Homo sapiens: one gene and its partner. The protein of the gene in region 1 purifies or fractionates together with the protein of each later gene. This does not show direct contact. Each region holds a gene or a part of one and is shown on either strand. Other genes may lie near its edges.

Region 1 (3,500 bases):
CTCATGCACAGATGCTTCCCAATGGATCATTCATTTATTGGTCCACTGGTGCATTCATTTTCTGCCCTCCCATTTAATCCTTTGCAATATCAGTGTCCAAGAGCAGAGGCCAAATGCACCTTGTTTACCATTTGTGGAAAGGATAAGAATGCCGCCCCACCCCAAAATATTCCTGTCCTAGTCGCCATATCTTGTGAATATGTTATTTTACATGGAAAAAAGGAATGCAGATTGCAGATGGAATTACGGTTGCTAATCAGCTAACCTTAAAAGGAGGGTATCCTAGATGATTTTAGGGAAATTATGATGGATTATCTTGGTGTTTCCAATAGAATGCCAAAGTCCTTAAAAGATGAGGAAGAAGGCAGAGCAGCATTCAGAGAAAGAGGTGTGGACAAGGAAGAAGGGTCTGAGTGATGCCGTGTGAGAGGCGTGACCAGCCTTTGTGGACTTTGAGGGAGGAAGACGGGGACCAGGAGCCAAGGAATGTGGGAGCCTCTAGGAGCTGGGAAAAGTGAGGAAGCAGATTCTTGCCTGGAACATTCAGAGGGAAGGCAGCCTTGCTGTCACCTTGATTTTAGCCCAGTGAGATGATGCATTTCATACTTCTGAGCTACAGCACCATGAGATATTTTTTAAAAATGTGGTTTCCATCCACGAAGCTTGTGGAAATTTGTTATGGCAACATAGGAAAAGGTTCCACACTGCACAGTCTGAGCATGGGGCAGTGGCTGAACGAGTAAGTGGAAGTGTCATGTGCACGGATGAACTACGTTCTCTCTTACCGCAAAGCTCTTGTTCCACTAAGTCAACCAGGGTTGGATCATGACAGACAGGAGCTCATTCCTTGGCAAGTAGAACTTCTCTACAAATACACCACCCTCAAAAATGTTCCCCTTCCTTCCCCTTCTCAAGCCCCCAGGCATTTGTCCTCCCAGTTAGGAATGCAGGCAGAACAAACACAGCATTTTTCCTGAGAAGAATGTCTGATTTGCACTCATCCTTCTACCCTGAGGTCTCAGCAGCAGAAAATTAGAGATTAAGAGATTTCACTGAGCCCTGTGCTGGGCCCAGATCCCTTTCGCTGTTGGAGTGTCTGGGGTTCAGAGACAATGGAAGACAGGCCCACAATCACAGAGCTGGCAGGTGCTGAGCCAACGCTTGAATCCAAGGCTTCTACCTCCCCAGGTTTCCAAAAGCAGAGATAAGAGGGGTCCTTCACTTACCAGTTTTGAAGCTTGGTTCAGTGGGTGAAGGCCAACTACTAGAAGGGTTTCCTAGAACACGGGACAGGAGAGAGGTGTGGCAATGAGGATGCCTGTCTTCTACTCAATGGAAATCTTTGAGGTTGGTTCATGGCCAACATTCTATTATCTAATGTTGGGCCCTGGGAGTCCTGGCATCCCATTCTCCATAATCATTGTAGGTGACACCAACTATCTTGAGACTTCAAGGTATAAGGAGAAAACAGGAGCATCACACTACCTGACTTAAAAATATGTTACAGAGCTGTAGTAAGCAAAACAACATGACATTGGCATAAAGAAAAGCACATAAAACAATGGAGCAGAATGAAGAACACGGATGTAATCCACCCATTTACATCCAATGGACTTTGACAAAGGTTCGAAGAATCTACAATCTGGAAAGGACAGTCATTTCAATAAATGGTGCAGGGAAAACTGGATATCTACATGCAGAGGGATGAAACTGCACCTCTACCTCTCACCATACACAAAAATCAGATGAAAATGGATTAATGACTTAAGACCTGAATCCATTAAATGTCTAAAAGGAAACACTGGAGAAATGCTCCAGGACATTTGTCTGAGGGAAGACATTTTGTTTAAAACCTCAAAAACACAAGTAATCACAACAACAACAAAAAAATAGACCATTGGGATTATATCAAATCAAGCAGCTTCTGCACCGCAAAGGAAGCAACCAATGAAGTGAAGAAGAGACAACCCACAGAATGGGAGCAAATATTTGCAAACTATGCATCTGAGATGGGATTAATAACTAGAATATAAAAGAAGCTCAAACACCTCAATAAAACTAATAATTTAATTATAAAATTAGTAAAAGACCTGAACAGACATTTCTCAATGAACAAAACATACAAATGAACATATATACATTGCATATATGAAAAAGTGCTCAGTATCACTAATCATCAGAGAAATGCAAATGAAGTCACAATGAGCTATCATCTCACCCCATTACAATGGGTTTTATCTCAGAGACAGACAAAACAAATGTTGGCAAGGTGGTGGAGAAAGGAGAACCCTAATACACTGTTGATAGGAATGTAAATTAATACAGCCATTACAGAGGAGAAGAATATGGAAGTTCCTTAAAAACTAAAAAGAGATTAGGCACTGTGTCTCACGCTTGTAATCCCAGCACCTTGGGAGGCTGAAGTGGGCAGATCACTGGAGGTCAAGAGTTCGAGACCAGCCTGGCTAACATGGTGAAACCCCGTCTCTACTAAAAATACAAAAATCAGCCAGGCGTGGTGGCGGGCACCAGTAATCCCAACTACTCGGGAGGCTGAGGCTGGAGAATCACTTGAATCCTGGAGGTAGAGGTTGCAGTGAGCCCAGGTGGTGCCATTGCACTCCAGCTTGGGCAACAAGAGTGAAACGCTATGTCAAAAAAACAAAAAGCATAAAACAAAACCTAAAAAGAGAACATCCAGAGGATCTAGCAATTCCACTAGTGGGTGTAAATGCAAAGAAAAGGACTTCAGTGTATTGAAGTGACATCTGCACTCCCATGACTGTTCCAGCACTGTTCACAGTAGCCAAGATGTGGAGTCAACCTACCTGCCCATCAGTGGATGAATGGATAGAGAGAAAGTAGTACATACACACAATGGAGACAACTCATCCATACAAAGAGTAACGTCCTGTCATTTGCAGCCACATGGATGGACTGGAGGTCATTACAAGGATTGCCATTTCTTACTCACATGCAGGATGTAAAAGGTGGACCTCATGAAGGTAGAGAGTAGAATGGTGGATACCAGAGGTTAGGAAGGAAGGGGTGGAGGGTAACAAAAGAAGAATATAAAAGTATTTATTTATTTATTTAGAGACAGAGTCTCTCTGTGTCACCAGGCTGCAGTGCAGTGGCATGATCTCAGCTCACTGCAACCTCCTCCTCCTGGGTTTAAGCCACTCTCCCGCCTCAGCCTCCCAAGTTGCTGGGATTATAGGCGCCTGGCACCATGCCTGGCTAATTTTATTTTTTTTGTCTTTTTAGTAAAGATTGGTTCCCCCATGTTGGCCAGGCTGGTCTCCAGCCCCTGATTTTAAATGATCCACCTGCCTTGGCGTCTCAAAATGCTGAGATTACAGGCATGAGCCACCGCACACAGCATATAAAGGTATTTATGATCCCTAGATTTTACACTTAAAAATGGTAAAGTTGATAAATTATATAGGTATATTTAACCTCAATCAGCATTTTTTCAAAGGAAAAGAAAAAGTGTAGGG
Region 2 (3,500 bases), on another chromosome or scaffold:
TTAACTAAAATATCAATTTCAGTGACATCCTTTTGCTGAACCTGTGAAAGAAAATATAATTATTCTTTATTTTAAATAGTAGCACAGCCCCATAAAAATTTAAAAGCAAATTTTCCTCCCAGATTTATATAACTAAAACATGTGTCCTATTCAGACAATTACTCTTTTTTTTTTTTTTTGAGATGGAGTTTCGCTCTTGTTGTTGCCCAGGCTGGAGTGCAATGGTGCGATCTCAGCTTGCCGCAACCTCCGCCTTCTGGGTTCAAGCGATTCTCCTGCCTCAGCCTCCCGAGTAGCTAGGATTACAGGCATGCGCCACCATGCCCAGCTAACTTTGTATTTTTAGTAGAGACAAGGAGTTTCTCCATGTTGGTCAGGCTGGTCTAGAACTCCTGACCTCAGGTGATTCGTCCACCTTGGCCTCCCAAAGTGCTGGGATTACAGGTGTGAGCCACCATGCCCAGCTAACAATTACTATTTATTTCCCCGTACTCCCACTTTGGGGCACTTAACTTGCAACTTTAATAATATTCCTGTCCTGCTTTAACACTTACTATTATAAGCTTAATCTCGATTCTACTTCATTTACACACAGAGACTTCATTTACCATAGAGGAAATGGTAGCAGAACTATGAGCCAAATTGAATCTCTTTGCTTACTTTCTATTTAATAATGTCTGTACATTTTAAAGTGATACAAACATGTATGAATATGGGAAATTTTAAAAATACATTTCAAATGCTAAAATAAATATACAAAAATTCTAAATAATTGGATATAGGCAACATTAGGCACCTTCCTTATCAAGTCGGAAACAAATAAAATAACTGAACACATGCATAATATCTAGCACAAATCTAAATATCATTTAATTCCCAATTAATAAACATACTATCTTACTTGTTTTCCATCAATCTCTACTACCTCTTCTTGAATGACAATTAGTTGCAAACTGGAACCAGATGTCATAGGCCACTCATGAACTAAAATCCTTACACTGACAATTCCAAAATATTCTTTTTCCTCCAAATTTTCAAGATTTTCATTCTTCACTATAAAAAAAAAAGTAGTGACACCTTTGAACAAAGATTACCACCAAATCTGTGAGTGAGTGTGATTATTTTGATGACATTTACATGGAACAAGACAGTTGAAAACCCATTTCTTTGGCTTTCTTCATCCCTGACCTCAATGCTGTTTCAGATTTATTAAAAACAAAGACAATCTGACAAATCTTTATGACTGCTTACACTCATTTGAAAGGGTAAAATGTGTTGATCTTTAGACTTTGTATGAAATACCACACTAGCAACATCTTTCCTATTCTTTTTTTTTTTTTTTTTTTTTTGAGATGGAGTCTTGCTCTGTCGCCCAGGCTGGAGTGCAGTGGTGCCACCTTGGCTCACTGCAACCTTTGCCTCCTGGGTTCAAGGGATTCTCCTGCCTCAGCCTCCCAAGTAGCTGGGTTTACAGGCTTGCACCACCATGCTCAGCTGTTTTTTTGTATTTTTAGCAGAGATAGGGTTTCACCATATTGGCCGGGCTGGTCTTGCTAACTCCTGACCTCAAGTGATTCACCCACCTTGGCTGCCCAAAGTGCTGGGATTACAGGCGTGAACGACCACGCCTGGCCCATCTTTCCTATTCTTTTATACAGGTTGGCCATGAGGAACCAACATGGCACAACTATAAAGCCAGCCAGAAGATACAGCCAATCCCACGTTTTAACATAATAAGCACATACATTCATCCATCCACAAAATCCTGTGAGAGAAGATGCCCAAGCAGTAAGAACATTGAGTTTTTTAATCAATCCTTTCCCCGATTAGTGACTCATTACTATTAGAGAGAGCAGGAATGGGGAAAGAGGGTGGGGGAGGCCTGTCATTTCTCTCTGGTAATCGATAATGGGGTAGGACTAGCTATTGTCCACGTTCTTCTCTAGCTAGGAAACCTCTACTCCTGCTCCAGTAGAAACGGGGTGTAGTAGCTGCAGCTGGTTTACAGAGCCAACGGCTACTCTATTAAGGTAGAAGTGCTATCGAAAAAGATAAAACAACATACACCAATGCACCTGTCACAGATGGAGCATTTTATTTCTATCCCTCAAATAATCTGAAGATTTTTGCCAAACAGGAATCCAGATATACAATCTGAATGCACACCCAGCTGTTTAGTCTGATTCTGTGCATCTATAGGGCTACTTCCTTTGTCTGGAATATCTCAATATCTAGTTCATTAACTACTTACTATTACAAGATATACCTACCTATTCTCCCCTGCTTTAGTCCCCGCCGCCAAACCATTCAGACAACATGCCAAGCTCGTCTCACTGTGACGTGGTTTTCAGTCCACAGCCTCCTGCTCACACACCTTTAGTGGCACTTCTGTGAAGTTCCCGGTCCTCTCACTGGTCCTCCTCAGGCTCCTCATCTGGCCCCTCGCTGCTCCTCTCTCTAGTGTGCCTAATCCTTCATGCCCTTTGAAAAGCACCACTGTCAAAGGTACCCCCTCTCTCATGGTCCATCCCCGTGTTTTAACTGACCATTACCACCCGTGGGTCTCCTTCGTGGAACAGCAGGCGCTGTGTCAGCATGTCCGTAAGCCCAAAGACTAAGGTACAGGAGACTCAATGGGTGAGAAAATGCAGTCATAAAAATACACCCAAGTGGCAATTCTTCAGCCTGCAAATTTGGTACCTGATATAGTTTGGATGTTCCCCGCAAATCTCATGTTGAGATGTAATTCCCAATGTTGGAGGCGGGGCCTGGTGGGAGATGTTTGGGCCATGGGGGCAGATCCCTCATGGCTTGGGGTTACGGCACCCCACTGCCACTCTTGCTCTCTCTTGCTCCTGCTCTGCCATGTGAGATACTGGCTCCCCCTTTGCCTTCCACCATGAGTAAAAGCTTCCTGACGCCTCCTTAGAAGCTGAGCAGATGCTGGTGCCATGCTTCCTGTACAGCCTGCAGAACCATGAGCCAATTAAACCTCTTTTCTTTATAAATTACCCAGTCTCAGGTATTTCTTTATAGCAATGTGAGAAGAGCCTCATACAGTACCTCTAATACAGCATAAAATTAAATAAAAAACAACAAAGCCCTTCATATTGACTTCCTTACTGTGGTAGGCGGCTTTCAAAAATGCCCCTCAATGACCCTTGCCTCTAAGGAGTCAGACATTTCTGCAATTCCTCCCTCAAGTGGGCTGGACCTAGTGACTAGTCAGTTAGTTACCTATCTATCTATCGATCTATGAATGATTTTTTTTTCTTTTTTTGTTCTTTTGAAAGAGACAGCCTTGCTATCTTGCCTAGGCTGGTCTTGAACTCCTGGCCTCAAGTGATCCTCCAGCCTTAGCCTCCCAAATAGCTGGGATTACAGGCATGAGCCAATGCACACAGCCTAGTGACTCGTTTCTAACAAACAGAGCATAGCCCAAGTGATGGAATGTTACTGCCACAATTAGATTATTAATGGCTATGACTTCTGTCTTGCTA

Evidence for each region.
Region 2: the proteins of KIR2DL4 (region 1) and GINM1 purify together in Homo sapiens (affinity purification with mass spectrometry; one large-scale study listed by BioGRID and IntAct). This does not show direct contact.

The regions. Positions count from the first base shown.
Region 1 is NC_000019.10:54,806,610-54,810,109, reverse strand, and holds part of KIR2DL4 (killer cell immunoglobulin-like receptor 2DL4 isoform c precursor), read right to left. Parts: intron 1,278-3,500; coding exon 1,227-1,277; intron 1-1,226. UniProt on the Homo sapiens protein: Receptor for non-classical major histocompatibility class Ib HLA-G molecules. Recognizes HLA-G in complex with B2M/beta-2 microglobulin and a nonamer self-peptide (peptide-bound HLA-G-B2M).
Region 2 is NC_000006.12:149,576,375-149,579,874, reverse strand, and holds part of GINM1 (glycoprotein integral membrane protein 1 precursor), read right to left. Parts: intron 1,054-3,500; coding exon 902-1,053; intron 42-901; coding exon 1-41.